Regions from separate parts of the Homo sapiens genome. Here all the other regions are reported to be linked to region 5. The links are microRNA targets in miRTarBase. Many come from high-throughput screens and were not tested one by one. Region 5 holds a microRNA gene; each other region holds the end of a gene's coding sequence.
Evidence for each region. The annotated mature microRNA hsa-miR-183-5p reads UAUGGCACUGGUAGAAUUCACU and lies in region 5 at 1,342-1,363, shown strand. An mRNA with a match to its seed (bases 2 to 7 or 8) in the 3' UTR can be bound and repressed. Matches are read on the target gene's strand: a 7mer-m8 pairs with bases 2 to 8, a 7mer-A1 pairs with bases 2 to 7 and ends in A, and an 8mer does both.

Region 1 (4,077 bases), not on the chromosome of region 5:
GGCTCTGACTCTGTGTCTTTGCCAGAGCACCCAGCACAGAGCACCAAGCTGTGGAAGGGGGATTCCCCAAAGGGGACCAGAGGAAAATTATAGGTTAGGGCCGTATTGGAGAAAGAGCACAAAGACCAGCCTGGGCAGTTTAGGGTCTTTCTTGGGACATTAGCTATGAAAGGTTCATGAACAGGGGAGGGACAGAATCAAATCTATTCTGGGGTGCGAACAGGGCAGATGACCTACTGAAGCCTGGAGTAAGGTGCAGTCCACAGGGATGAAGCTAAGGGAGCTTCCACAGGCATTAGGCCCCCTCTGTCAGCCCCAAGCCCCAATGATGCACCCTCATCCGTCTTCAGGTTTCCTAAAACTCCCAGGTGAACTTCCATACTCCTGGTGTTGCCACAACCACATTGTCCTCCAGATAAACTTTGCCTGGCACTGATCGCCCAAGGCAGTGGCCCCAGGACTCTTCCACCTCTTCACCACCTAACACGGCTTGGAGGATCCGCAGAGCTACATCAATATTACATAGATGAGACTGCTGTCCTGCGGACCTCAAGAGCTGTGGGCAGCCAGAGTTCATCTCTCATCTCCATCCCCATTTACAAATGAGCACCTGAAGCTCAGCGAACTAAGACTGTTAGGGGCAGAGGTGACAGGATACCCTGTTGGCTGCCTCTTAGGCCTGGTGTCTTCCCCACACATCACATAGCTGTCTAAATTCTCCTCCATACAGGCGAGTCATGATCTGTACACAGTATGAAGCTGGGGGTGTGGCTGGTGATGGGGGAGGGGAGGTGATACCTCAGGGAAGACCTGTGCCTACCTTGGGGGCCTATGGACAGATGGATTGTTCTTTTCTAAGGCTGCAAAGTGGAATCCATCTACCTGAATGTGGAGGCCGTGAACACACACCGGGAGAAGCCTGAGGTAGGTGGGGGACTCCATGGCCCAAGCTGGCTGTGGACACAGCACATGGTGAAAGCACCTTATCCACAGAAAGGCTGCCCCAACCCCACCAAGCCTGGGTGTTTTGCACCAACAGATGGAGCAAACAGCACCCAGAAATGCAGAAACCACAACCCAGACACGAGGCACCATGGAGATGCAAGGCTGGGGCAATTCCCGCCTAAAAGGCCTCAGGCTGAGATTCCCCCAGGCCTACCTGAGGGTCAGGATCCGGGCCTGGCTGAAAGAGGGGAGCCTGGCAATGAAGACAAGAGGCAGGGGAGAGGTTGGGGCCCTGCACTGCTGTCTCCTTCCTATTAATCCTGCGCTCTCTCCTCAGAATGTGGACATCACCCGGGAACCTGAGGAAGCCCTGGATACTGTCCCAGCCCACTACTGAGCCCTTTCCAAGAAGTCAAACTGCCTGTGTCCTCATCGCCTTCCACCTTTAGGAAATGCTATCTTTGCTCTTCTCCTACTCTGCCTTGGCCTCACTGAGGCACCCCACTTCCAGTGAAGAAGTCCTCCGCAACTCCCAAACAAGCCTCGCTTGCTGGCCGCAACCAAGGAGCTATCTAGCTCTGGAGGAAACTTTCTTTCTTAATTCCTATTCTCTGACGAATAAAGACTTACTGCCTACAAGAGGAGAGGAGGAGGTCATGGCGAGGCTTTTCCAGTTGTTCTCAAGGTACTGACCCTAATCCTGACCCAGCTCTGCTGCTGTGAGGGCATGGAATGGGTGAGGATTTCCTGGAGGGAAAAGTTCTACAGTAGCACCTCCAAAGATGGGGGAGAAGATAGGTGCCTGTGAGTTCCTGTGGGCCTTGTTCCAGCAAGGTGGCTGTGGGCATGACACTTTCATCCTTATACTCAGGGAAGAATCTGGCACTTGAGCCAAGTGCTCCTTTCTTCTCCAACTCTTGCTGCCATCCTGAGTGATTTCACTGTTTATGTGAATGATCCAACCAATACTCTGGCCTCACAGTCCCCTGACCCCCTCAACTCCAGTGATCATCTTCTCCCCTTCAACCACCTACTCCATGGATTTTGGTATCATCTCCCTGGTCTGACTTCTTAAACGTAAGCATCCAACTGTCTGACCACTGCCCACCCACTACCCCAGTCCTTACAACTCTCTGTCATCCACTGAATCCCTAGCAGTGTGCCTCCATACAGTAGGCATATATGTAGTATTTTCTTCTTTTTTTTTGAGACAGGGTCTCACTCTGTCACCCAGGCTGAAGTGCAGTGGTGCAATCTCAGCTCACTGCAGCCTCAAACTCCTGGGCTTAAGCAATCCTCCCACCTCAGCCTCTCTCACAAGGAGCTGGGACCACAGGTGCACACCACCATGCCCGGCTAATTTTCAATTATTCTGTAGAGACGAAGTCTTACTATGTTATCCAGGCTGGTCTTGAACTCCTGGGCTCAAGCAATCCTCCCATCTTGGCCTCTCCCAAAGTCCTGGGATTACAGACATGAGCCACTGTGCCCAGCCCTGTAGTATTTTTTGAATGAACAATATTTGTTGCTGTACAGCATCAAGAGCAGAGTCCTTTGAATGCTCTATTGTCCCCCAATCTATCCTTAGTGTTCTGTCCCTAACTATGTTGGATACTATGGGCCATCTCTTCAGCCACTCTCCAGGCAGCTACCATAAGCCAGGTACCAGTGACCCAGTGGTAAAGAGACAGACTCATACACTTGCTGCCTTTGTTCCCTTGTCCTTCCATCACAACCACCCAGCAAGACCTAAACCTTGTATAATCCACCTCTCCTTTTGTTGTTGTTGTTGTCTACTACAGAAGTTGCTGATCCCTGCTTGAAGCAGATCTATATTTATCTGCATCCACAGCCACCCTTAAGTCTGTTCAAAGTCAGGGTTGTCTTCTCTGGTACCCTATTCCATCCCACCTTCTCAGGGATGGGCTACTTCAGTCAATTCCTGACTCTTCCATATCTATCTCCTGTTCCTGTTAGCTTTTGCCCCACAGTCTATACAATATGCCCAAGTTTTCCTCTCCTATCCCAATTAAACCCTCCCTTGTTCTTATGTCCACCCCTAGTGACCTCTGCCCTTCCCTCCATTCTTACACCAGTGATTCAAAATCAATCTGTACTTACTGTCCAGAAGCCTCTCCGTTTGCCTTCTGCTCCAGGCTTTCCCTCTCCATATCTTTCCTCAACCTGTTATCCTCTTGCCTGCCATGCTTTCCCCAGGCCTCTATCCTGCTGAAATCATATTTGCCTTTGAGCCAAAAGCTGGAGACCCACATTCTCCAAAGAGCTATGCTGATCTCCAGCTCTTCTACGAACCCAAGATGCCACTCCACAACTACCTAAGCACATTAAAAGACAGAAAAAACTCCAATTCATTTTGCAAATTTAATGTAACTCTGATACCAAAATATGACAGCACACAGAAAGCAAACAATAAAGCAGGAACAGCAAACAGATTTTTCCATCACATGACACCCTCAGCTGATTGGCCATAACTGCCTTGACTGCTGTGTGGACAAAGATTCCAAGGATGTACTTTGGCTCCATGGGAAGGACTACTGCAATTTATTAGCGGTATCTGTAAACATGGGGAATAAATCTGAAAACAAAACAAATAGGAACACATTTTAGCACCAAATACACTGTCTTCTCATAATTCCTTAATTGCCCTCACCTTTCCACCCTGCTGTCCTGCCTTAGTGTTTCTTACAACATCTCCCAGCTCTTGTACCCATCCCTGTGGGTCCTGGCTATGGAAATATTGCAGTTACCTGAAACCTCACTAGCCATACGAGAAGCCACAGGCACCAAGACTGGCGGCTCCACTGCCAAAGCCAGCACTGGTGCTCGGTCCACCACCAAAGCCAGCACCAGTGTTTGGTCCACCGCCGAAGCCAGCTCCTGTGCTCGGTCCACCGCTGAAGCCACTGGTGCTTGGTCCACTGCAGAAGCCAACACCAGTGCTTGGTCCACCGCTGAAGCCAACAATAGAACTGGGTCCACTACTGAAGCCCGTGCTGGTGCTGGGTTCGCCAGTAAAGCCAGTGCTGGTGTTGGAACCACTGCCAAAGCCAATGATGGTACTCAGTCCTCTGTCGAAGCTGGCATTAGGCCTACTGCCAAAGCCATCGCTGG
Region 2 (4,077 bases), not on the chromosome of region 5:
TGATCCTTTCTTTGCTTTCCTATATACTTTTTAGTTATTTTCTTACTGGTTACTTTTGGTATTACAAGTAACATCTTAAACATATAACAATCTAGTTTCAATAATACCAATTGAATTTAAGTAGTATACACTGCTATTACACATCTTCCCTCTGTCAGTCACAGATTATATCTTTATACATTGTTTCCATTAATGTGGATTTATAGCTTTATGAATTTTACCTTTAAATCATAAGAAAAAAGGATGAGTTACACAAATCCAAAGTGAAATAACACTGGCTTTGCTAACTACCTGTTAGTTATCTCTACCAGTGTTCTTTAGTTTTTCATATGGCTTCAAGTTACTGTCTAGTGTTTATTTTAGCTGGAAGGACTCCCTTTACCATTTATTGTAGGGCAGGTCTACTAATAAAACTCCCTTAACTTTTATCTGAGAATGTCTTAATTTCTCCTTCATCCTTAAAGGATGTTTTGCTTCTTCTTTCAGCACTTTATTTTGAGAATATTTTTTGAGACGGAGTCTTGCTCTGTCGCTCAGGCTGGAGGGCAGTGGTGCGATCTTGGCTCACTGCAACCTCCGTCTCCCGGGTTCAAGCGATTCTCCTGGCTCAGCCTCCAAATAGTTGGGACTATAGGTATGTGCCACCATGCCTGGCTAATTTTTGTATTTTTAGTAGAGACAAGGTTTCACCATGTTGGCCAGTTTGGTCTCGAACTCCTGACTTCAGATGATCTGTCCACCACGGCCTCCCAAAGTGCTGGGATTACAGGTGTGAGCCACCATGCTCAGCCTTCTTTCAGCACTTTAAATATGTCATCCTATTACCTTCTAGACTCCATGGTTTCTGATGAGAAATCAGCTGTTAATCCTGAGGATCTCTTGTATATGATGAATCTCTTCTTGCTGCTTTCAAGATTTTCTGTCTTTTGACAATTTGACTAATAAATTTGGGTATGGATCTGAGTTTATCCTGTTTGAAACTCATTGAGCTTCTTGGATATGGAGATTTATGTCTTTCATCAAATTTGGGACGTTCTGGACCATTATTCAAATAATCTCTGCCTTTTCTGAACTCTCATTAAATGTATGTTGGTACATTTAATGGTGTCCTACAAGAACCTCTAGTTCTGTTCATTTTTCTTCCTTTTTCTTTCTGTTCCCTGGACAGAATAATCTCTATTGCCTTATCTTCCAGTACACTGATTCTTTCTTCTGCCTGCTTAAATCTGCTGTTGAATCTCTCTAGTACATTTTTCTTCTCAGTTATACTTTTCAGCTCCGGAGCTTCTGGTTGGTTTTTATAATTTCTATCCCTTTATTGCTAATCACCCATTTGCTCATACATTATTTTCCATGGTTTCCTTTAGCTCATCAAGCATATTTAGGACAAGTGATTTAATGTCTCTGACTAGTAATTTTAATGTCTGAGCTTCCTCAAGGATAGCTTCTGTTAAATCCTCTTTTCCCCTGTGAATGAGCCATATTTTTGTTTCTTTGTAATTTTTTGAGAACTGAACATTGAGTATTATAATGCAGTGACTCTGGAAATCAGATTGTCTCCCTCCTCAGGAATTGCTTTTTTGCTTATTGAAGGATGCAGTCTTCTGTGTCCATAGTGACTTTTCCAGGCTTATATTCGTATTTTTGCCAGGCTTATATTTGTATTCCTTGTTGTGTATAGTCACGAAGTTTCTGTTCTGTTGTCTCTTGGTCAGCCTGTGACTTGATGGAGATCCTGTTAACTGTTGGAGTTCAGCAGCATCTCCCTTCACCAAGTGTTCCCCTGGTGACTATGTCCGACCAGGTTCCAGAGTCCCAAAACAGTTTATTCTGATAGTTTTCTTTCTTCCAGCTTAATCGTTGTTTCTGTGCAAAAACTGAACCCTGGGGCCTCCTACTCTGCCATCTTTTGTCACAAATGTTACTTTATTATTATTATTTTTTGAGACAGAGTCTCACACTGTTGCCCGGGCTGGAGGACAGTGGCGTGATCTCAGCTCCCTGCAACCTCCGCCTCCCAGGTTCAAGCGATTCTCTTGCGTCAGCCTCCCGAATAGCTGGGATTAAAGGTGCCTGGCACCATGCCTGGCTAATTTTTTTTATTTTTAGTAGAGATGGGGTTTCACCATGTTAGCCAGGATGGTCTCGATCTCCTGACCTCATGATCCACCTGCCTTGGCCTCCCAAAGTGCTGGGATTACAGGCATGAGCCACCACGCCTGGCCACAAATGTTACTTTTAAAGACAGCTAAATTTCAGAAATTCTTGCTATGCCTTGTGAAAGTACCTCCAAACTCTAGTCCCAGGAGTTCTGAGGGCTGTCTCAGCACATTTCCCAGTTTAATGGTGCCAAAAGGAACATCTGCTGTATGAAAGGTAAACTTTTGTGTTTCCTTCAGTGTGCTGAGAAGAGTGGCTGGCTTTTCCTGTGCATAAAATAACTGGATAACCCTGCAAGGGTCCTTACTTAAACACGGAATGTGAGAGTCTCTATCTCATTTTAATTAAGACAGGTAATGAAAGAACAAAACTGTAATGACCAGGGTATAGTAGAAACAGGATTTTAATATAATATTCAAGTCTAGCATTTGCTATTTACAACAAATAAATATTGCCCCTCCCCAATCAGTAAACAAACATTTTTTTTTTCTTTTTGCTTTTTATACAAATATTCAATCACCCCACCCCCACCCCAAATCCTCCTTCCTCACTAACCCCCGTCTTGCATGGTCTCGTAAAGCCCAGGACGCAGTGGTGAATGGCACTTGCAGTGGCATGAGATTCAACATCGATGGGACTCAGCTGGGACTGTCCTCACTCACCGGGTGCAGAGTCTGGTCCATGAAGAGGGTTTCTCTCTCTGCTCCCAGGGGAGGGCTGGGGTAAGCGGTGGGTGAGACTCCCTCACTCTCAGTTGGCCCTGATGATGGAATCTTTGGTGCAGCCTGAGAAAGGCTAGAGTGGTGGGAGGGGCCGGGACCCCTGCGAAGGTCACAGGCCAGTGCCTGTGGGCATGAGAGAACTGCAGTGGTCACAGTGGGTGCTCTGGGGTGCCCATGGGCACAGGTGGCAGTGACCCACACCTGGGAAGGTGTCAGGGAAGTGTACAGAGGTGGCGCCCGGGGGCAGGCAGGGCACCATGCCATGCCCGTTGGCACTGCTCCTTGGCAAAAGTCAGCTAGTCCTCTGGTTCCAGAGAGCAGAAGGCACCTAAGGCAGCGAGTGGTCCACGGGAGGCCAGGTCAGCCTGACCAATGGCAGGCGTCAATCCCAGCAGCGGGAGAGGTTCAGGATGAAACTGGAGTCTGGGGTACCCTGGGCTGGCAGGTGGGAGGAAGGCGCCCAGCTGGCCTGGGCCACTCTGGTCCATAAGTGCTTGGCTACCAGCCAGCCAGACCCTGGGAGGATGCCCTCAGAAGATGCCCTTGGCAATCTTGAGTCCTTTCTGCTTCATGCGAGGGAGGGTGGAGCTGGCTCCGTGCTTGACCTTCACTCCCTTGGTGAAGGTCCGCTTCTTGAGGACAAAGTCATAGTTGGCGGTAGAGTTCATGGCATAGAAGACGTTGGCGTTTTCAGGGATCTTCAGCTCTGGTGGGGAGGGGCAGAGGGGTGATCAGGGATGCTCCTGGGGGCCCTGCAGGATACCCCTACCGCTTGAGAGCCCATACAAGGACTGTCTTGAGCCACAGACCTCAGATCCCCTCCAATACAGCTCCAGAACTCCAAGGACCCCTCTCAATGACTCCTGCCTGAGGACAGACTCTGCTGAGGTCCTCACAAAACCTGATGACTCTTGTTTAAACAGGGACTGACTCCAGAACCCCCCGGCTTGGCCTGAGCTGGCAGAGGGTCACCCCGTCCTGCCCATACTGCAGTGCTGGCTGCCCACCTGGAACAGGCTTTCTAGAATCCAGGTCACCTCCCAGAATCCTGCCCTACTCAGGACAAGGGATCCAAGGACCAGGAAAGGACAGGCCTGCCCCAGGGCTCTGGCGCCCGTTCCAGGGAGGCCTGTACTCCTTGAACCCTGGCACCCGGCAAGCACTTCCTTTTGGCTCCATTTCCCACCATCTCCTC
Region 3 (4,077 bases), not on the chromosome of region 5:
CCGCCTCTTTCTCGTCGCGCTGGCGCTGCCCGAGTCACTGCATCTCGGCCCTCATTCAGCTCAACCACACGCGCCGCGGGCCCGCCCTGGAGGACTGTGACTGCGCGCAGGACGAGAACTGCAAGTCCACCAAGCGCGCCATTGAGCCGTGCCTGCCCCGGACGAGCGGCGGCGGCGCGGGCGGCCCCGGCGCGGGCGGGGTCATGGGCTGCACCGAGGCCCGGCGGCGCTGCGACCGCGACAGCCGCTGCAACCTGGCGCTGAGCCGCTACCTGACCTACTGCGGCAAAGTCTTCAACGGGCTGCGCTGCACGGACGAATGCCGCACCGTCATTGAGGACATGCTGGCTATGCCCAAGGCGGCGCTGCTCAACGACTGCGTGTGCGACGGCCTCGAGCGGCCCATCTGCGAGTCGGTCAAGGAGAACATGGCCCGCCTGTGCTTCGGCGCCGAGCTGGGCAACGGCCCCGGCAGCAGCGGCTCGGACGGGGGCCTGGACGACTACTACGATGAGGACTACGATGACGAGCAGCGCACCGGGGGCGCGGGTGGTGAGCAGCCGCTGGACGACGACGACGGCGTCCCGCACCCACCGCGCCCGGGCAGCGGCGCTGCTGCATCGGGCGGCCGCGGGGACCTGCCCTATGGGCCTGGGCGCAGGAGCAGCGGCGGCGGCGGCCGCTTGGCGCCCCGGGGCGCCTGGACCCCACTCGCCTCCATCTTGCTGCTGCTGCTTGGGCCGCTCTTTTAGCCCTCGCGCCCCCCGCCGTTGGCTGCGGGAGAGCCCGCGTCCCACTCCCGTGCTCGCCTCGACCCCGCGCCGGGCACCTGTGGCTTGGGACAGATAGAAGGGATGGTTGGGGATACTTCCCAAAACTTTTTCCAAGTCAACTTGGTGTAGCCGGTTCCCCGGCCACGACTCTGGGCACTTCCCCTGAAGCTCCTCTCCGGAGCTTGACTTCTTGGACCTCCTCCCCCGCCCCAATTCCAAGCTCCAGAAACTCCCAACTCGTCTGCCGTCCAGAAAGCTAGCTGCAGTGTTCAGGACGTCCGGGAGGAAGCAAGCATGTGGGGGACAGAACAGTAGTCCTGGACTCGAAAGGGAAGGTGCTGACCAGTGGGGCCTTAGCAATTTGAAGGGTTGGGAAGGAGGAATTATATTTGCAAAGGGGCTGTCTATTAGCATATTTCCTTTGAGGGGGCAAAAAAAAGTGCCAGTATCGACTTTTACAGATTGTGGCCAGTGAGGATATTATAATCCTATGTAAACAGAAAAGTCCCACTTACCGATTCATTCTTTCACTGTTTGTATCTGCGCCCAGAATTCTCAGTGACGTGGGGGTGAGGGTGGGTGGCGATTGCCTTAGAGGGAACCCCTAAATTGGTTTTGGATAAGTTTGAGCCCTTGACCTTAATTTCATTGCTACCACTCTGATCTCTTAGCACATTTCTTAGGATTAAGGGTCCAAAAATGCTGATCTAAGGGGTTGCCATGGTGTTGAACAATGCAACTTTTTATTTAAAAAAGCTCTGCACTGCCATGTATGAAAGTCTCTTTATGATGTTTGTTTTTTTGTCATTTTTGTTCTTTACATCAAGAAATTTTATGTTTAAATATGCGGAGAATGTATATTGCCTCTGCTCCTATCAGGGTTGCTAAACCCTGGTACATCGTATATAAAATGTATTAAAACTGGGGTTTGTTACCAGTTGCTGTACTTTGTATATAGAATTTTTATAAATTGTATGCTTCAGAAATAATTTATTTTTAAAAAGAAATTAAAAGTTTTAAACTCACATCCATATTACACCTTTCCCCCCTGAAATGTATAGAATCCATTTGTCATCAGGAATCAAAACCCACAGTCCATTGTGAAGTGTGCTATATTTAGAACAGTCTTAAAATGTACAGTGTATTTTATAGAATTGAAGTTAACATTCTTATTTTCAAGAGAATTTATGGACGTTGTAGAAATGTACAAATGCATTTCCAAACTGCCTTAAACGTTGTATTTTTATAGACATGTTTTTTAAAAATCCTAAGTTTTTAAATAACTATGGATTTGTGTATTTTTTTTGGTTATTTGTTTTATTAAAACATGTACATCAGTAAAGAGTTTTAAACAATGAATATGGTGTAGTTACTTTCCAGAGTTACATTGTGGTTAACCCAATAATGGGTGAGGAGGGGGGTTGAGGGGGCACTGAGAATCTATCAACCATCAACTGAAATGAAAATACAGTACAAGACAAGAAATTATTTCTGCCTTTAATTTAATGAACAATTAGACATCTGTAAATGAGGCAGCCAAAAATATGTAATTGACTGGCTTCTATTGGTGTTTGCATTTGTGGAGAGAATTCACAAAATAGTGTCTCCTGTACATAATTTGAGGATAACTCAGACATGTTGCCCCGCCTCCCCCTTTTCCCCTGAGACCTCCCCTCTTTGTATCCCCCTTCCCATCACCCCTTACCCCCAAGAGTATCCTCTCTGGCTACTAGCCATTCTCAATCAAACATGCCAATAACATCTGTTACCAATAGGTTTTAGGAAGCTTGCAAGCTCAATACTTCAAAGTCATTTTCACACTTTTGGTGAAAAAGTACAAAATTTTGTTGCAAAACATTCAGACCAGCAAAAGTAAACACACAGGGGAAAGGAACAATCACCAGAACTTGTAATATTGTTGTGAGGAGTTGTTTAGCAGTGGCTGAAGGCTGGGTTCCTGCCAGAGCTACTGATCTACACTCAAACGCCCTTAGATAAATAATTACACTCTTAAGCTGTGTCGAGTGCTGATACACTTGACCTTGTAAATAGAAATGTTTGCAGTAGGAATAAACTCCGGCATTGGAAAATCTTTTAAACATTAACACAAAAGAGAGCGCTCTGTCCTCTAGGGATTTGAGCCTGAACCTCGCCAAGCTAGGCACTTGCAAGGGGGAAAAAAAGTTTATTTATCTTCTATTCCTGGTGTTTGTTTAAAGCTTTTCATTTTAAACGCGGTGATTGGAAGGCAAGTCGGGAGTTTAAAAGTCACCACAAATAAACTTTGTCTGAGGGGTCGACAGATTAGCAAGATCTGGTGTCTCTTTATTTGATATTAACATGTGCTGAAAAAACATAACCAGATTTCTCTGCTGCCTAAAGTAATTAACGAAGCTATGCCCCCATTCTGACTTCCTCATACCCACTCCCACCCCCCTACTTTTCAAGGTTTCTTGTGCTTCTAACTCGCTCTTTTCCCAGCTTTTATGGAGGTATTCAAGACACTTCTTGGTGCACCTAAAACCACGATTTCTATATGTATAGTATTAGAAAGTCTAAGATAGCTGTAGTGTCAGACTTAAGCCCAGGAGAGTGGTGTGTGGTTGGAATCTCCAGTCACCTGAATGGTTGAGTAAACATATTGTTAAAACAAAGCTGAGAGCGTTGTTTCTTTGGGAAGCGAACAAAGAGTATTCCCAGAGACTTGTAAATGAAATCAGCTTTCTTTACAAAACGACAAGTTAGCAGTGCTCCTGCGTTTGTCCTTAAATATATTTAAATCATCTCCATCTCATGTTATTTTAACACATGCTTGACTAAAAGTTAAGTCTTTGTCCCAGTAAAAGGCCCAGTTTTCCCCAGTAAGAAGTAAAAGGCATTAGCACTAGAAAAGGCCTGATAATTAACTGCTACAATAAACTCACAACTTGATTTTACAGGGTCCTGTCAAAAGCATCTGCCTGGAATAAATCAACACAACTCGCTCTTGGGGAGAGAGGACACGAGGCTTTATGTTTTCTTCCTTAAAGAAAGTGAACATTGATTGGTGGTCCATTTTAATTTAAACAATTATACACTGGAGCCCAGGAGTCCTCTGGTACCCCTACAGACCTAGCGGAGGTTGTTGAGATGTTAGAACCCTTTGGCTAGTGGTTATGAGATTGCATATTGCCATCTGCTTCTAAGCAGAAAGGATTTTTACAGATGTTGACATCTGTAATATCTCACGCTCTCTGGGGAGCCTTTTGGAATTTTGGACATTTGGCCATCTCAAATGTCCCATGGAGAATGGCTGGAAGTCCCA
Region 4 (4,077 bases), not on the chromosome of region 5:
GACAATGTTCACATATTGAACGTCCTAATATATTCTCCCATTGATAGGATGAGATGAAATCTGTTCTACATTTTCATGTCAACATAATCACTGCACTTTAATAGTATCCTTTTCAAGGTTCTTTTTAAGTTTGCACACAGATTTGAAAAATCTCATTCCCCATCCATTCTTTTCCACCAGGCTATGAAATGTATATTGCTCTTATATTTTCCATTCATATACTTCAAGGCGAAGATTGAGATACTGTAAACTATTCTCACATGAGATGTGATACAGGCTAGGTAAGAGCATGGATTTCGGGCTGAACATAGTGGCTAAAGCCTATAATCCCAGCACTTTGGGAGGCCAAGGCAGGAGGATTCCTCCAGCCGAGGAGTTCAAGACCAGCCTGGGAAACAGTGAGACTCCCTGACTCTCCAACAAAAACAAACAAACAAACAAACAAACAGCCAGGTGTGGTGGTGTATGCCTGTTGTCCTAGCTACTCAGGAGGCTGAGGTGGGAGAATCACTTGAGCCCAGGAGGTTTGAGGCTGCAGTGAGCCATGTTCACACCACCATACTTCAGCCCAGGCAATAGAGCAAGACCCTGCCTCAAAAAAATAAAAAAGAAGAAGCATGGATTTGGACTCAGATAAGCCTATGTTCATATCCTCATTCTGCTACTTAAGACGTATGTGTTCATGGGCACATTGTCTTTATTTGTATTTTTTATGAGGCTTTTGTGAACATTTTGATAGTAGTGAAATACCTGTGCATGGCATGAATAAATAATATATGGCCCTGCTATTATTTTTGTTGTATGTCATATGAGGGAATACTGGGAAAGGTCCATGTACGTTTTCTTTCTGAAAAGTTCTGGTAATGCCTAAATTCCTTTATTAGTCATTTATCCATACATATCAAGCACTGCCCTCATTGAACTTTATATTACATTGTGGATACCTCCTAAGAAGAGTATCTTATTCTTAGTTCCTAATCCTTTTCAGTCAGTCTGTTTATTGGTAGCTGCTCTCAGTGACAGGGGAAATCAGGCAACATGGTAACGAGCACCTACGAATATGGGGTCCTAGAAAGGGAAGTGAATTCTACAAAGGAGAGCTGACTAGGATCAGTCCTATCGCTCCTATTGGAGGTAGTCATGTCCACAAGCCAGCAATACCTGTGCCATATACCATGAGGTTAAGCACCAGGAAGACACCTAGAAATACACTTTCAAAAAATCAAAATAGTAAGGCAATAGAAAAAGAAGGCATAATTTATTGTGTCTATTATGACTAGTGTTTAATAAGACTTATAAGAAAATAATCAAATTATTAGATCATTTAACATATATTCTGGAATTAGAAGCAAAAAAAGTGAGAACATAGCTGAGCTCCATAAACATGCAAATTATATTTTTATTCAACAAATATCTGTTGTCCCAACTTATGCCAGGCACCCTGTTAGGCAGTGAGGAATGTGAGAGTGACTATGACAAATGTGGTTCCTGTTCCTAGTGGGGAAGGAATATAAATAATAGTATCAGAGGTATGATGACAGAAGTGCAGGAGCTGAGAGTCAGAAAGGCATCTAAACCCAGGCTTCCCTGAAATGACCTGAAGCATGAAATGCGGAGGATTAAGGATTTCAGGAAGAAGGAGCAACCTGTGAAGAGGTTTTGTCAACTCTGACCTCTCCAGAAACATTTAGCCACAAGAAAATCCATAATTTAGTGGAGAATGTCTAAAACATTTAGTGTTACCCAAATTCAGCTCAAGATGAATCAAATGCAGGATGACAATGTACCCCATTTCACAGTTTTCCAAAGAAAATACTGATAATGATGAAAAGAATGACAGCAGTTCAGGCTTGTTGATGCATTTTATTGTGAGATGGGAGTCTGGTAAAAAACTAGAAAATGACCATGATGTAACAAGGAACTTAAAAATGAAGAGTCAGATCTGTAACTTACATACATGAATACAGGAACAAATTGGCACAAAATGTTAAACATTGTTCCCAACACTGTTTATAGAAGTTAATCCTAATTTGGCTTACTAAGGAAATGAGAGTTGTATGGTTAGGCTGATTTCTTAATAAAACTGCAGAGCATCATGCTATTAGTCACACAGTGAATTTCAAAATTTAAGTTTTATATTAAAAACTGGGTAAAGGTAAAATGACTTGATTGTAGTTGTAAAACTAATACATTCCCATTTAAGTTCTGTTCTACAGTCCAAGGCAAGTATAAATGTTAACATAACACTGTTAAATCAAATCTCAATGCAGGAGAACCAATTGCATCTCTACTTTAAATCTTATCAACTTTCCAAATTTTCATACTAAAATATATTATTGTATTAATACAAACTACAGTATTATACACTACACTGTGTAATAAATAAAGAAATATAAAAATAAGACACATAAATATAAAAGTTTTCTAAAACTAAAAGTACATATGTCAGTAAGAAGGGTATTAATACTGCCAGGTTTGAAGACATACAGTACAAAAATGTTGCACAGATCTATAAACTAAAAGAAATAAAATAATACTGATAGGTAAAAATCAGCTAATGTTGTTAATAAATTGGGTCCATAATAACTAACATTTGGAAACAGTTATGAGCCAAATAACAATAGCATGTCCATGTCTGAAATGCAAGTACATGGATAAAGCAGATTAGAAAATTTCCCTTTCGTTTCTGTAGAGAAATTCTGAAAATCAATCAACATAAAATCAATACCGAGGAATTGAAGGATGAAATGTCCCAGTGTTTCAGTTTCTCTGACAGAGTCAGTGGTTTTAAGTTTTATTTGGGAATTTTGATACAAGAGACAAATCAACAAATGCTAGTTATTGTAGGCCACACATTGGATGAAGGCGGGTTAGAGCCTTGAAAATACTGAGAAATGGCACTTACAGCACACAGGTCTTGCTTAAGGCCAAAGGAGATACAAAGCTTCATGTCATATCCTTCATATGTTACCACATATTCAAACACAATCACAAACACTGATTCTGATGATTTTGCTGTCCTTATCAGATTAACATTGTTAGTCCCTGCAATCAGAACTCAATGGCAATCTTTTGAACTCCATTTTAAACCACGTGAGTAAGAAACTTCAGTTCTTCTATCAGCTGCTTTCTTAAGGCTAACAATACACTTTAAATGATAATACGCTCTACTAAGACATCTAAATATTAGAAATTACTACCTTCTAGACTGAATTTATAAAAGGTAGTTAGCACGGGTTGGAACTACATTATACTTCTCTGTGAAGGGAATTTTGTAGTGCAGAAGTTCTCACATTTTAAAAAACATAATAAAATACTGAAGCGGATTTAGCATATGTTTACCAATAAAAAATTATAAAATTTCTCCCAATTGTACAGCTTAAGAATAAACCAACATAAGAGTGATAATACTGATAAGATAAAACAATGCCAGATGCATATCTAATTAATCAGCTTCCTTTAACCTCTTGTATTGTTGCTCTCTGAGTCATTAAGGTTTTCTAATCTGCTGCATGTTACAAACTTGTTCCTAACTTTGAAAACTGCATGAAAAATTACTAGGTCTGAGGTTCAGGCACACCCGGATTTATTTTGTGTGTGTGTGTGTGTGTGTGTGTGTGTGTGTGTGTGTGTTTTGTATTTTGTATTTTTTTAGTTTTTACTTTACACAGTAGTGAACAGGAATCACAGCATACAGGTTACTGTGTTTCCATGAAAAGCAAGGATAATATTGAACGAAATTCATTATCAATTAGAATTTATTTTCCTTCTAGAAAAACGATTAGGCTTCATTTGTCTTTTCTTCAGACACTTGCTCACTACTCTCGCCTACTTTTTGTCCTAAGCTGCTTGCTTGACTTTCAGCCCTGTCATCCTTCATCAGACCTTCAGTTTTTGCTTCTTCTCCCTCATTCTCTGCCTCTTCTACCTCTTCTTCTTCCACTTCTTCCTCCTCCTCCTCCTCTTCCTCATCCCCTTGTGGTTTTTCACATTCTTTTTCTTCCTGCAATTCTTCCATCTCTTTATCCTCCTCCTCTTCCTCTTTTTCACTGTCTTCATCCTCTTCCCTTGTCAAAC
Region 5 (4,077 bases):
AAGCTGGATTGTCCTCTGGGGAGATAGACCAGCTAGAAGGGCAGAGCCCTGTAGTGGGGGTGTGTGGGAGCAGGACAAAGAGTCCTCGGGAGCAGGAAGGGTGGAGCATTAAGCAGTGTCTAGGGGAGAGCGGATGGCTTTGGCCAAGGTACCCAGATGGAGCTCTGAGGTCCACGGGAGGTAGTTCCTGGGGGTAACATCGCCAAGAGGTCTGCATAGTTTCTGGGCCAGGGCACCTGCTCTGACCCTTCCAGGATATTTTCTAGCCACCCTGCCTTCTGGGCCACCGCTGACCTGGAGTAGGCTGAGACTCTAGTGGCCACTCTGCGGAGGCCCCAGCTTGCCTGCCCTGGGTGCCAGCTCCCCAGAGACCCTCCCTCCCACCCTCTCCCTTCTTCCCGTCCTTCCCCAGGGCCTGTGACACCAGAGGCAGGGCCTCCACAGCAACTTCTCTCTAGGCAGCTGCTCTGGCAACCACTGATGCAACCTTCCCAGCCCCTCCCTCGCTCCTGAGCCTCCGCTTTCCTCCGCAGTCACTCCAGAGCCAGCCAGGAGCCACTCCCTTGCTAGAGTGCATCCGTGCCTCCGGCTCCCTCCAAGCCACCTGGGTGGCTGCAGGACTTCTCTTCTGCCCTCCTTTCCTGGCCTTTTCCTGCCTTGATCCTAGGCCGGCAGCAGAGATGCCCAGCCTGGGCGGTTCACAGTCTGGCCCAATCTGGTCTGGTTTGGGATGGGAGTGGGGGTGAGCAGCAGATTCGGTTTGTTCCTGGGGCTCTGTTTCTGCCACAGGGCAGGCTGGGGGGTGGAGGATAATGGAGACCAAAGTGCCTAGGAGCCTGGGCTGCTGGTGTCTGGGCTCAGAGGCTACGAGAGGCATCTTGGATGTCCCACTGGTCACTGCCCCTGTGGCAGGTTGGGTAGAGAGGAGGCTCTGGCCAGCTGCTTGCCTCTCCGAGCCAGAGTTACTCTGGCAAGGAGATGGATGGTCCTGACCCACTCCCTCCCCAGCCTGGAGGCGCAGTCTGGGTGATGTGGAGGGATGTGGGCCTTCAGGTGGAGATAGGAGACACCTTGGTGTGGTCTTCTCCTCTGCAAGGCCAGAAGGTCAGCTCCTCTCCCGCACTGTCCCTGTCTCCTTGAAGGTCATCTTGGGCTGATGGGGCATGTGGATCTTGTGAAGAGGTGGGATGGGGTGGGGGGTAGAGACCGTAGCAGCCGCTGCTGAGGGCCTGCTGGGGGGCCCCCAAGGGAGTGGGCAGGCTAGGAGCAGGGAACGGGCATCGTGGGCCGCTGGTCTCTCCGCAGGGTCGGCAGGCCGCAGAGTGTGACTCCTGTTCTGTGTATGGCACTGGTAGAATTCACTGTGAACAGTCTCAGTCAGTGAATTACCGAAGGGCCATAAACAGAGCAGAGACAGATCCACGAGGGCCTCCGGAGCACCTTACCCACTTCTGCCTTGAGTGCTCCTAGACGTCGGAAACAGGCTGCTTCCAAGGGTGCAGGGATGCAAGGCCCCTCGTCCAGTGTGTCCCCAGAGAGCCCGCACCAGTGCCATCTGCTTGGCCGATTTTGGCACTAGCACATTTTTGCTTGTGTCTCTCCGCTCTGAGCAATCATGTGCAGTGCCAATATGGGAAAAGCAGGACCCGCAGCTGCGTCCGCCTCCCCTGCATCCTTGTGTCAGGGCCCCAGCCTGCTCCTCCTCAAGGCCTCCTCACCGCCTCCCCAGCCCATCTGGCTCAGCTGCTGTGTGAGGGCCCAGCGCTGGTGGGCAGCCAGATCGCCTTACACTGCCTGGGGCCACGGTAGAGCTGGGAGCCCAGCAATCTGAGCTGGGCCAGCAGATGGGGCCGCCCAGGGCAGAGGTGGGGGAGTCTGAAACCATCTGTAGGGCCATCCTGAATGGTGCCGTGGGTTGGAAAGGCCCAGCCAGGCTCCCAGCACACGCTTGGGGTGAGACCTTGGCTGGCAGCACAGGGCCTGGTCTTTTCTGCTGCAGGTTGTGAAGGGGGCAGCTCCAGGCAGGTGGGCTGCCCTTGAGGTCAGCCTGGGTGTTTCCAGGGGGGCTACCGTCTCTGGAGCTGTAGCCTGCTGTGGAGTGGGTCATCTCCGAACAGCTCCAAGAGGAGGATACTTAGTGGGGCTCGGAGTTGGAGGGCATTTTCAGGCCTGCCCCTAGAAGGTTCTGGAGCAGAGGCCAATGTTCCCCTTCACACACCACACACTGGTAATGTAGCTTCCTGGGTCCCTGGATCTGGGCTATGACTAACTGGCCTATGCTCTCCATCTGGGTGTCAGGTGACATTACATATATAATCCCAACAGTTCCCACCTCAGCCCTGTGGGGCTTGTAATTTTTTAAAATAGTTATCTCATAGATGGGGAACCTGAGGCTTTGAGAGGAAAGGCTTGGCTGAAGAGGTTGGTGAGTGGTAGAGCTGGGTCACTGTGGCTCTTCCGCCACCAGCCACACCTTCCATGGAGGCACCCAGGGCCTGGAGGTGTCTCAGCTCTGAATCTACAGGCCTGGGCTCCCAAGGATGCCCCAGATGGCAGAGACTGAGGCTGGGAGGCCTGGACCTAGTCTGTCAAAGCTGGGGAGAGCCTGGCCAGCCAGGCTGGACCCATGTGAAATCTGGTGGTCAGCAATCAAGCAGGAGACCAGTGGCCGACTTGGGACCAGCTGGGAGCTATCATGCCCCAGGTCACTGGGCCAGCCCCTGATGGGGCTGCTTCTCCCCAGGGAGCCTCAGGCAAGGGTTGGTGGACTTAGCCCAGATCAGTGGGAGTCATTTTAGGTGTCTGAGCCAGGGAGTGCCCGGGTGGGGGATGTGTGTGGTTGAAGCTGGCAGCTGGAGGATGACGGGTCCAGTTGACTGCACAGCAGGAACATGGTGACCAGTGCTGCCTGCCTGGGTGCCCTGGGGACTGCCTTGGGTGGGTTGGGCCTTTTTTTTCTTGTCAGTTAGCTATCACCAAACCGCGAGGAGCCCCCAATAAATTCCCTCTGGGGTGTGGTGCCCGTGTTTCTCTACAGAAGCTCTCCAAGCCCCTGCAGAAAAAAGGAGGGGCTTGTTTATTTCAGGATAGAAGGGGACTTCTGCCCTGGTGAGGTGTCCCTGTAGCTAGGTCTCTCTTCTGATGGCCCCAGCTCTCCCTCTGCCCCTCGGAACCTGGCTGGCCTGTGCCGCACCCTGTCTCTGTGCTCCAGTCCTCCGCCCCGGGTGCTTCCTTAGGGCGTCCTGCTGCAGGTCCCATGGGATAGGAAAGAAGGGATTTCCCGGCCTGAGTGAGAATGAGCCCTGGAGGTGGGGTGGGCACAGAGACCCAGCAAGGGGGGGTGGAAGGCCCCTGGCAGTGACCGGTTCTAGAGCTTTTCCCTGGAGCCTCTGGAGTGTCTGGCCAGGGTTCTGCTCCTTCCTGCCTAGCGGGGAAGGCCGGATGACAGAAGCTGCCCTCAGCCCCTGGGTGGTCTGCAGCTGGGCTCCACCTCCTCACACCTGCCCAGGTGGGCGCCTTTGCTGAGCCCCGAGTGCAGGCACTGGTGTGGGGGCGTGCCTCCACCAGGCTTCAGGCCCGGCTGCTCTGGGGCCCTGCTCCAGCGCTCCAGGGGAGGACCTCAGGCCAAAGCTAGTTTCTAGATCTCCTAATTTACCTAGTTCCGGGCCAGACCTGGGTGGTGAGTTCACCCACAACAGTGACTGTCCCAGAGAGTGGGGGCCACCACAGCTGGCCCTCCTCCCTAAAGACACAATTTCCTACCACCCAGGCTGGGGGCACTTAGGATAGGAGAGGGCCCCTCTTCACCTCCCCACCCTGCAGAACAGGTCCTGGATCCTCCCTTGTGTGGCTTCCAGAAGGTCTGTGAGATGGGCAAAAGGTTCTGCCCATGATCTGTCCAATGGTGTCCAGTGTCAGGCAGGAACGCTGTCCCACTGCAGCGAAGGCCTTTCTTGCTGGAGCGGGAGGGTCACTGAGAAGCACTTTTTGCTTTGTTTTTCTGTTTGTCAAAAGCAGCGGCTCCCAGATGCCCGGGTTTAGGGCGTCCCCCATGTCGGGCACCTTGCTTGGCCTGTC
Region 6 (4,077 bases), not on the chromosome of region 5:
GGATACTGAAAGAAAGGTTGAATTTATCATAGCTTTAGGGAGCAGAAGCCAAAGAGCAAGAGGAGCAGGAAAACAGCATGAGCGGGCAAGGGTCAGCCCTGCTGGCCCAGGTGCGCCCACAGAGCTGGTGGCCTCCTTTCAGAATGAAGTCCCAATGAGAGCAGAGCCCTGGGGAGGAAATTCTTTTGCTTTGAAATGAATTTGTTTTGTTTGGTAAGTAAGGTAGCAAATACCTTTTTGTGATGTGAAGAATGAATTTTGGCAGTTTCGCATTGACTTGTGCATTTGTCTTCTCTCCATGCAGGCGGGCTGGTCCGAGTCTCTGTTTTGGAAGCTCAACCAGTGGCTGATGATTCACATGTTTCACTGCCGCATGGTTCTAACCTACCACATGTGGTGGGTGTGTTTCTGGCACTGGGACGGCCTGGTCAGCAGCCTGTATCTGCCTCATTTGACACTGTTCCTTGTCGGACTGGCTCTGCTTACGCTAATCATTAATCCATATTGGACCCATAAGAAGACTCAGCAGCTTCTCAATCCGGTGGACTGGAACTTCGCACAGCCAGAAGCCAAGAGCAGGCCAGAAGGCAACGGGCAGCTGCTGCGGAAGAAGAGGCCATAGCTGCTCCAGCCGGGGCTCCGGGGCGGCAGCAGAGCTGGCACACCGATTCTGGGAAGCCCCGCGAATGATGGCTTTTGAATTAATGAGGCAGTGAATGTTTTGTGTTTACTTCTAAGGGAAATACTAACTTTCTTTCGCATTAGTATTAATTTTGAAGTAGCTACAAAGTATTTTTAAGAAATTATAATTTTATGACTGTCTGGCAGGCTCTGTCAGTTTAGCCGCGCCGGACCGTGTCAAGCATCTAGGAGAGGAGTCCATGGTGTCCAGGCATCGGGGCGTCACACCTGTTGAGGAGTGGGGTGGCTTTGAATGCTGGAAATGGCTTCATAGTGAAGTGCCTCCCACAGGGCGGGTGGGTCAGCGTTGACTCTTTCCAGCTGCACACTCATATGCCGTGTGTCTTATTCAGAAGTCACATTCTTTTCAGTTGGAGAGAATTGGGCTAAGATAGAAAATAACATGATTTGTTCCTTATTAAAGCTTCCCAGCGTATGAAATTCTAAGCTGGGTGGGGTGGCTCACACCCGACGTAATCCCAGCACGTTGGGAGGCCGAGGCAGGTGGATCACTTGAGGCCAGGAGTTCGAGACCAGCCTGGTCAAGATGGTGAAACCCCATCTCTACTAAAATTACAAAAATTAGCCGGGTGTCGTGGCACACACCTGTAATCCCAGCTATTTGGGAGGCCAAGGCAGGAGAATTGCCTGAACCCGGGAGGCGGAGGTTGCAGTGAGCTGAGATCGCACCACTGCACTCCAGCACTCCAGCCTGGGTGACAGAGCAAGACTCTCTCTCAAAAAAAAAAAAAAAAAAAAATTCTAGACCGAAGTGTACGGCAGTGCCATCTGGTGGCAAGTGGTACAAAGACAACGCTGAGGGGTAGTGACTCCTGTAGCAGCAGAGACGCCTTGGAGTTTAACCCCCACCAACCAGAGCGTGGGCTGGTAAAGATGAAATCTTGCAAGTTTTTTTTTTTTTTAAATCATGGTACCTGTTTTAAAATGAGAAGTTATTATTCATACTGTGTTGCTCATTTGACAAAATAAGGTAAGGATTTCATAATCAGGTTGTCTGGGTTTCAGAGCTGTTTTTAATTGACTGAGTTACCTACAGGCACCCAATCTAGACCCTAATTCTGTGGTTGGTGTTCCTCTGTAGATTTCAAGACAAGTAGTGATGTCATTTTCTCCCTGAGCTGTAGGGTGGACCTGGACCCCTCAGAGATGCTCGACTGCAGGGTCCTGGGGTCCCTAGAGTGGTCCTGCAGCAGCCCCTGGCAATGAGCTGCCTGATGATGAGTCCCAAGGTACATTGTTCTACTGTTTTATACCCAGGTAGAAGTTACACAGCAATTTAGCAATGTTGTTAACAGACATACAGAATTGTGTGTGTGTGTGTGTGTGTGTGTGTGAGTGTTTTGATATAAACGTGCAATTAAAATTCAAAGTTTATTTTTTATCACAAGCACCTTTGAAATGTACGTGGAAAACGTCGGCTGCTCGTGAGAATCATGTGTGACTTACGTTCCTTATGTTTTATGGAACTCTCGGAACAGTGTTTTGTTTTTGTTTAGTTTTTGTTTTCGTTTTTTTGAGACGGAGCCTGGCTTTGGCTCCCAGGCTGGAGTCCAGTGGTGTGATCTCGGCTCACTGCAACCTCCACCTCCCGGGTTCCAGGGATTCTCCTGCCTCACCCTTTCAAGTAGCTGGGATTACAGGTACCTCTACCATGCCTGGCTGATTTTTTGTATTTTTAGTAGAGACAGGGTTTCACCATGTTGGCCAGGCTGGTCTCTGACTCCTGACTAAAAGTGATCTGCCCACCTCGGCCTCCCAAAGTTCTGGGATTACGGGCGTGAGCCACTTCACCCGGCCCGGAGCGGTGTATTTTGATTGCTGGTGCTTTAACTATATTGACCAAGGTGTATAGTAACCTATTTATCACATTTTACGAAGCAATTTTAATCTTAAACACATCCAGCAAATGGTGTCCCTGCTGAAACTTTTAACTGGAAACCTCACACCTGGCAGGCAGCACTCTCTGCAGCCGTGCCCTTGTGGAGTCAGCAGGAGCTGGTGTTTTTCAGCCAGACAGAGGCATAATAAAGTGACTGATGTTTACAGAACCCAAATGATGTCTTCCTCTCTCTCAAAATAAACTAACCTATTCATATTGCTGTGAATGCTTTATCTTGGAGATAGAAAATATAATGATAAATTCATCATGTGTTCAGAATTCGATTTGGAGTTGGAAGTGGACAGCCTAATTTTTATCTCACCTCCACTAGGACTTTGACCTTCCCAGGGGTCCACACTTTACCTCCTGTATCTTCATACGCGTGTGTGGATGCATAGAGATGGAGGTGCTGTAGAGAAGCACAGGCTCACCCGCTCCGTCCAGTGTCACCCACACATTGGTCCGGGGACCCCTCAGTGCAGAGCCTGAAGTTGGGGGTTTAGGGGTGGAAAAGGCTTCGTGAAATGTTAATGATGCGTACACCTTCCAGATGGCACAGCACTTTCCCATGGTCCTCACTGGCCTCAGTCTCCCTGACCGGCAGTGTGAGGGGATGTAGCTATAGTGGAGCATGGTACAAGCGACATTCATGAGCTCTGACTTCTTGGTGCCAGGTTGGTGTGAGCCTGGGCCCGGCCCACTCAGCGGCCCACATTGGCCAGCATTCAGCTGCACGTGTGTGCTGCGTGCTTCACATCCTCTATTGAGAGTTACAGCAAGTGTTAAACGAGGTGAGTTCACATAACAGGAATTCTGGAACTGCTTGAAAACTAGGACGATTGGGCAATATCGGCCTTAACTCCACCTGATGGCAGGTGACCCGGATAGAAAATGGCCCTGCGTTTAGCCAGGATGTGGCTCTCCAGCTTGGCTTCAGTGTGATCACTTGTCAGTGCGCTTTCTCTTTCGATAGTGAAATCCTTCTCTATACCTATGTTTTGTTTTGTTTCTTAAGTTGGGAAACAGAATGGGCCAGGGAGGTTGAGTGACTGAAGACCAAGGGTTGGTGCAGCCTCCTCGCCGCGCTGCGGGGGCTGGGCCGCACAGGCTTCTGCCCTTCTCGGTGTCCAGGCTCCTTGGGTGATGCTGGAGTTGTCATGGCCGCAGTTCAGTGTGAGATTTTTTACCAGGTATTGCGCTTAAGGGACATGATTTTCCATTTTCTTCGCCCGGACAACTTGAATGAAATGGGCACTGTTGATTCCACTTCTGTCGAGGAGCTTCGGGGCTCAGAGAGGTGATGACGTGCCCAAGGTGACGCAACTCGTGAACAGCCGTGCCTGCCTTGGGCGCAGCCTCCGGCGCCAGAGCTGGGCTCTTCAACACGGCATTTAGCGCAGAAAGTCGTGGTTCAGGCAGTATGGGCCGCTGTGACAAAACACCTAAGACTGGGTAGTTTATAAAGAACAGACATTCAGGCCAGGCACGGTGACTCA
Region 7 (4,000 bases), not on the chromosome of region 5:
TTTGGTTTCCAATTCTTCAGTACAGTGACCTCTAGTGCTTTGGATCTTGAGTTCTAGGTGACTAAATCCAAAGTAGCTCCTTAGGATCTTGTTCTGGGTTTCCTAAAATAAAGGAGGAGGGGAAGGTGCTGGTACACATTTCTTTGGTAGATGGGTGTTCTAGAAGCCTTTAAAAAATCCTGAGGCTTCTTTTTATGTGTCTCCCACGTGCTCCAGGATCTGCCTAATGCTATGAACGCTGCTGAGATCACAGACAAGCTGGGCCTGCATTCCCTTCGTCACCGTAACTGGTACATTCAGGCCACCTGTGCCACCAGCGGGGACGGGCTGTACGAAGGCCTGGACTGGCTGGCCAATCAGCTCAAAAACAAGAAGTGAAAGCCAGACAGCCCTAACAAAGCACCCCACCCACCCCTGACATACCTACTGTCACCCTGCCCCAGTCCTACCCCTTCCTCTCCATGCAAGTGTGGCCAGGGCCCTGGGTATCATGTCCACATGCCCAGCAAGAGCCTTGCCTCCCCTGCCTCCCCTCCTTTTTCCTGTCCACCTATATGACCAATCCCTAATTGCTGTCCTGATGATGAGTCATTCCAATTTACTGGATTTAAAACAAAAAGTTGTTACGGTTTCATGGGGTGGCCCCTCTCTCTCTCACCCTCTGGGTTTCGGGAGGTCGAGTGGGGTATTCTCTTTGTTTGGCAGTGGTTGCTGTCCTCTTGGCATCTGAGTCCTTTCCCTGTCCCCACAAGCCCTTCTACTCCCTGTTTGCCTTTCCTTTGCCACCCTCTCCCTGTTTTACATGGAAATTGCACGGGCCTCTCTGTGTTTGCGTGCATGTGTGCGCCTGTATATACATGTATAGAGAGATATATTTGTGGGGGCCGGGGGGAGCGGGGAGGGGGTGGAGTGAAGCTCAGGGCTTGCAGCCAGGACACTGCCCACTGGAGCCTGTCATCTGCCCCTTCCGTGTTGGTGAGATTAAGGGAAGAAGGTGGGAGGGCATTAGTCAAGCCGGACTGCCCCAGTCTTTGACTGGTTACCCTCCTCTCTGCAGGTAGGTTTTTCTGGATGATAGGACAGATGATGGATTCTTCACCACCATTTTCCTTGTACTCTTCTCTCCACCCTTCTTAGGGCTGGAGGATGGCATTTATCTCTAGATGACTGTTCCCAAGGAGATGCCACTCTGCTCTGCCTTACTGTTGGGAAGGAGAGAGGAACCCACTCACTCTTATCAGCTTAGAGTGTTCAACTGATCCTTCCCCACCATCTTCAGATCTGTTCCTCTGGAGCTTGACTGGGGGGTGGGGATGGCAAGTCCATGGTGTGTGTTAGGGACCCAGGGCATTGGGGGAAGGGAGGCGAAGGCCTGAGGTTTTCCATCTTCATTCTCTTTTGTTATTAGGAGAAGGTGAGGCATGGGCCAATCCCATTCCTGCCTTCCAGTGCCCCACCACCCTTCTGATCTTAGGGGTTGGATGGGTCATCTGTCCTTGGTCAGAATTTTCTCACCCTAGTACTCCTACTGGCCTGACCAGGGCTGACTGGGTATTCTAATGAGGAGCTGGGAAGTGGGGTGACATAGCTGACCTTAGTATCAACCCCCCTCTTCTCCAACTCTTGTTTTCTAGTCCAGGATATGCTAAAGGACGAAGATTTTCTATTGTTTCCAGGCCCTCAGACCATCCTTGCTGTCCCTTCACCCTCCATGCCCCTGCCATCCTCACTCACTTCTCATAAATGGATCTGGGGGTTAGAGTGGAGGAAATAAAATCCTGAAGTGGTTGTCAGTGCTTGTGGGATGCAGTGGTCTTCAGGATTCTCCCCGCATTATTATGTAGTTGTTCAGAAGCTGTTGCTACTGCGTCTCTCTGTCTGCAGGGGGCACTTGTTCCTGAGGTCCTCGCCTGGGTCCTGACTTCTGTAGTTTCTGTGAAGACGTGGCTGTCCTGTGGGCTCCTGTGTGTGCTGGCTGCGCCCTGAGCTCCGAGACAGCTGCCCATAACCTGCTAAGGTCAGGGCCCAGGGCCCCCCACAGCATGGCTGAGGGACCCCTTCCCAGTAGGGCTGTCCCAAGCCCCACTCCATGGGGCCAGGTTTCCTGGCCACTTTTGTTGATAGCAGATGGATCAATATTAGTAACCCCATCCAAGATTGAACTGTGAAAGAGAGGTTCCAGGGGTATCTCCCTCAGTGCCAGTTACTTAGTGATGTGTTACCCAGGATGCAGCAGGTGTGTGCAGGTATCTTGCTCTCTAGGCCTGTGTGTGTGTGTGAGTGTGTGTGTATATGGGTGTGGGTGTGTTTGTGTGTGGTGGTTGTGGGGGGGGTGTTGGAGGTTCTATTTCATTTAAAAATGTATTCATTTCCCTGGCCCCACAGATGCTTCCCTCCATACTTTTTATTTGCTCTGTTTCCTCAGATTTATTTTGTCTTGCCCCATTGCCTCTCCTTCCTTGAACTCTTTCCTTTTCAATCTCAACTCATTCACTGCTGTTGCTCATTTGCCCTTTTCCATGTATTTTTTCCTACTTAGGATTTTCCACTCTATCTTTGTGGTTCATGAGGACTTTGCCTCTTCTCCTGCCTCATTCCCTGACTTTCTCTAGTTAGATGTCAGTCCTAAATAGGTTTTCCTCACTTCAGGCCTCACCCCTCACCTTGTTTTTTTGGGGGCTCCAGGGACCAATCTGGGGCTGGAAATGTTAGGAGGTTGCCTTGGTGCTGCCCCAGATCTGTCCAGCAGGGGGCAGTAAGTGATCTTGGTAGTATCCCTGGCTGCTAAGCCCTTGGCAGGGGTGGTCCTTTCTACATTCCCATTCACTTAACAGCTCTTTTGGGATTGGGTGTTTCATTCCATTTCTGCCCACTCCCTCTCCTCTCCTCTCTGGTAGGTTTAATTTTATGCTTTCCCTGATTCCAGCTTTCTGCTTCCTGAGGACTCCCGCTCCCCCCACCCCAAAGTTTGTCTGTGGTGTTATAGTGGTAACTGCAGTTCCTCCTCTGGAATGTAGACTGTATATGTTTAATAACTCACCTTCTCTATCCTTGCTCAAAATGTGGGATAACGCGATGACTGTGACCCTGGTTGGAAATTAAACTTGTTTTATGCAGCTTTGGAGCCGACCTTCATCTTTGCTGTGCAGCAGCCGTGGGACAGTAGTTTCATGGTGAGGGGAGTCCTGTTTCTGGTCCCTCTCTCCATAGTGCTCCTTCTTTCAGCAAAGGGGTAAAAGGCACACTTGATTGATAGAGAGTAAGGTTATGGAGGAACTTAGTGCCACTCCACACTGGTTATTTCTTCCCATCATACCCCGCGGCGGGGGAGCCCAAATGAATTGGGCATCAGAGTGTGAGGGCTTCGTGACTTTCCTCCTCTAGTTCTAAAGGGTTTAAACCTGAAATCAGCTGTATTTCTCACCTGTTGGTAGACTGTATGGACTTCACTGGCTGAAGGGCCCTGAACTTGGAGGGCCCCATGTGCCTCTACTCTCAGATCTCCTCAGCCTTGCACATGAGGTGCTTCTAGTTTGAACAGAGACCCCCTCACTAGTCTAGTTCTGGACTTTGGCAGTGAATAAACATGAAGGATAAACGTCTGGGCAGTGTAATGACCTTAATCCTTCTTACAACTGATGGCCCTGCATCAGCTCTACTTCAGGCGTGTGGTTTTTCATTGTCAGGATGCCAAGCCTCATCCAGAGATCCCACAAATGTCTTGAGGAATAGACCTTTTCCATAAAGCCTCCATCCTCCCATCGCACTCCCACCACTATTCTGTTCCTCCCCTGCTACCAGTGTCTGGCTCCAGGCAAAGAAAGGGATGGTGCTACCTTTAGGGTGGGTGAGGTCTGGGTGAGCCAGGCAAGCCTTCCCCAATCTTAATATTTTCTTAAGCTTTGAGGACAGAGGTCTTCCCAGCCTGCTTTTGTGGGAAAGGGATAGGATTTAGGCATATAATAAGTTTGAGAGCCCCAAGTACCAGTGTGAAGCATAT

Region 1: the mRNA of TRO is a reported target of hsa-miR-183-5p. The part of its 3' UTR that is shown has no 7-base or 8-base seed match.
Region 2: miRTarBase lists RALGDS as a target of hsa-miR-183-5p. Seed matches in the 3' UTR shown: 7mer-m8 at 2,759-2,765.
Region 3: the mRNA of GAS1 is a reported target of hsa-miR-183-5p. The part of its 3' UTR that is shown has no 7-base or 8-base seed match.
Region 4: miRTarBase lists ZEB1 as a target of hsa-miR-183-5p. Seed matches in the 3' UTR shown: 7mer-m8 at 2,895-2,901.
Region 6: the mRNA of CLN8 is a reported target of hsa-miR-183-5p. Seed matches in the 3' UTR shown: 7mer-m8 at 1,464-1,470.
Region 7: miRTarBase lists ARF3 as a target of hsa-miR-183-5p. The part of its 3' UTR that is shown has no 7-base or 8-base seed match.

What each region holds. Positions count from the first base shown.
Region 1 is chrX:54,930,668-54,934,744 of GRCh38, reverse strand. It overlaps TRO (trophinin), which reads right to left. Exons shown (of 13, transcript NM_001039705.3): 12 at 3,714-4,077; 13 at 3,314-3,541. The coding sequence ends at 3,725. It overlaps PFKFB1 (6-phosphofructo-2-kinase/fructose-2,6-biphosphatase 1), which reads left to right. Exons shown (of 14, transcript NM_002625.4): 13 at 860-924; 14 at 1,283-1,784. The coding sequence ends at 1,342. Among named protein-coding and RNA genes, the nearest start is that of SNORA11G, 5.4 kb to the right of the region's middle.
Region 2 is chr9:133,095,175-133,099,251 of GRCh38, forward strand. RALGDS (ral guanine nucleotide dissociation stimulator) reads right to left here. Exons shown (of 18, transcript NM_006266.4): 18 at 2,548-3,588. The coding sequence ends at 3,413. Among named protein-coding and RNA genes, the nearest start is that of RALGDS, 24 kb to the right of the region's middle.
Region 3 is chr9:86,942,417-86,946,493 of GRCh38, reverse strand. GAS1 (growth arrest specific 1) reads left to right here. Exons shown (of 1, transcript NM_002048.3): 1 at 1-2,132. The coding sequence ends at 752. Among named protein-coding and RNA genes, the nearest start is that of GAS1, 3.1 kb to the left of the region's middle.
Region 4 is chr10:31,526,969-31,531,045 of GRCh38, reverse strand. It overlaps ZEB1 (zinc finger E-box binding homeobox 1), which reads right to left. Exons shown (of 9, transcript NM_001174096.2): 9 at 1,242-4,077. The coding sequence ends at 3,782. Among named protein-coding and RNA genes, the nearest start is that of MACORIS, 180 kb to the left of the region's middle.
Region 5 is chr7:129,772,253-129,776,329 of GRCh38, reverse strand. MIR183 (microRNA 183) reads left to right here and starts at 1,316; the gene lies at 1,316-1,425. It overlaps MIR96 (microRNA 96), which reads left to right and starts at 1,561; the gene lies at 1,561-1,638. RefSeq lists an enhancer at 2,236-3,097.
Region 6 is chr8:1,779,946-1,784,022 of GRCh38, forward strand. CLN8 (CLN8 transmembrane ER and ERGIC protein) reads left to right here. Exons shown (of 3, transcript NM_018941.4): 3 at 305-4,077. The coding sequence ends at 622. Among named protein-coding and RNA genes, the nearest start is that of CLN8-AS1, 17 kb to the left of the region's middle. RefSeq lists an enhancer at 3,768-4,077.
Region 7 is chr12:48,935,325-48,939,324 of GRCh38, reverse strand. ARF3 (ARF GTPase 3) reads left to right here. Exons shown (of 5, transcript NM_001659.3): 5 at 217-3,602. The coding sequence ends at 378. It also overlaps a transcript of FKBP11 not described here. Among named protein-coding and RNA genes, the nearest start is that of FKBP11, 12 kb to the right of the region's middle. RefSeq lists a silencer at 2,647-2,836.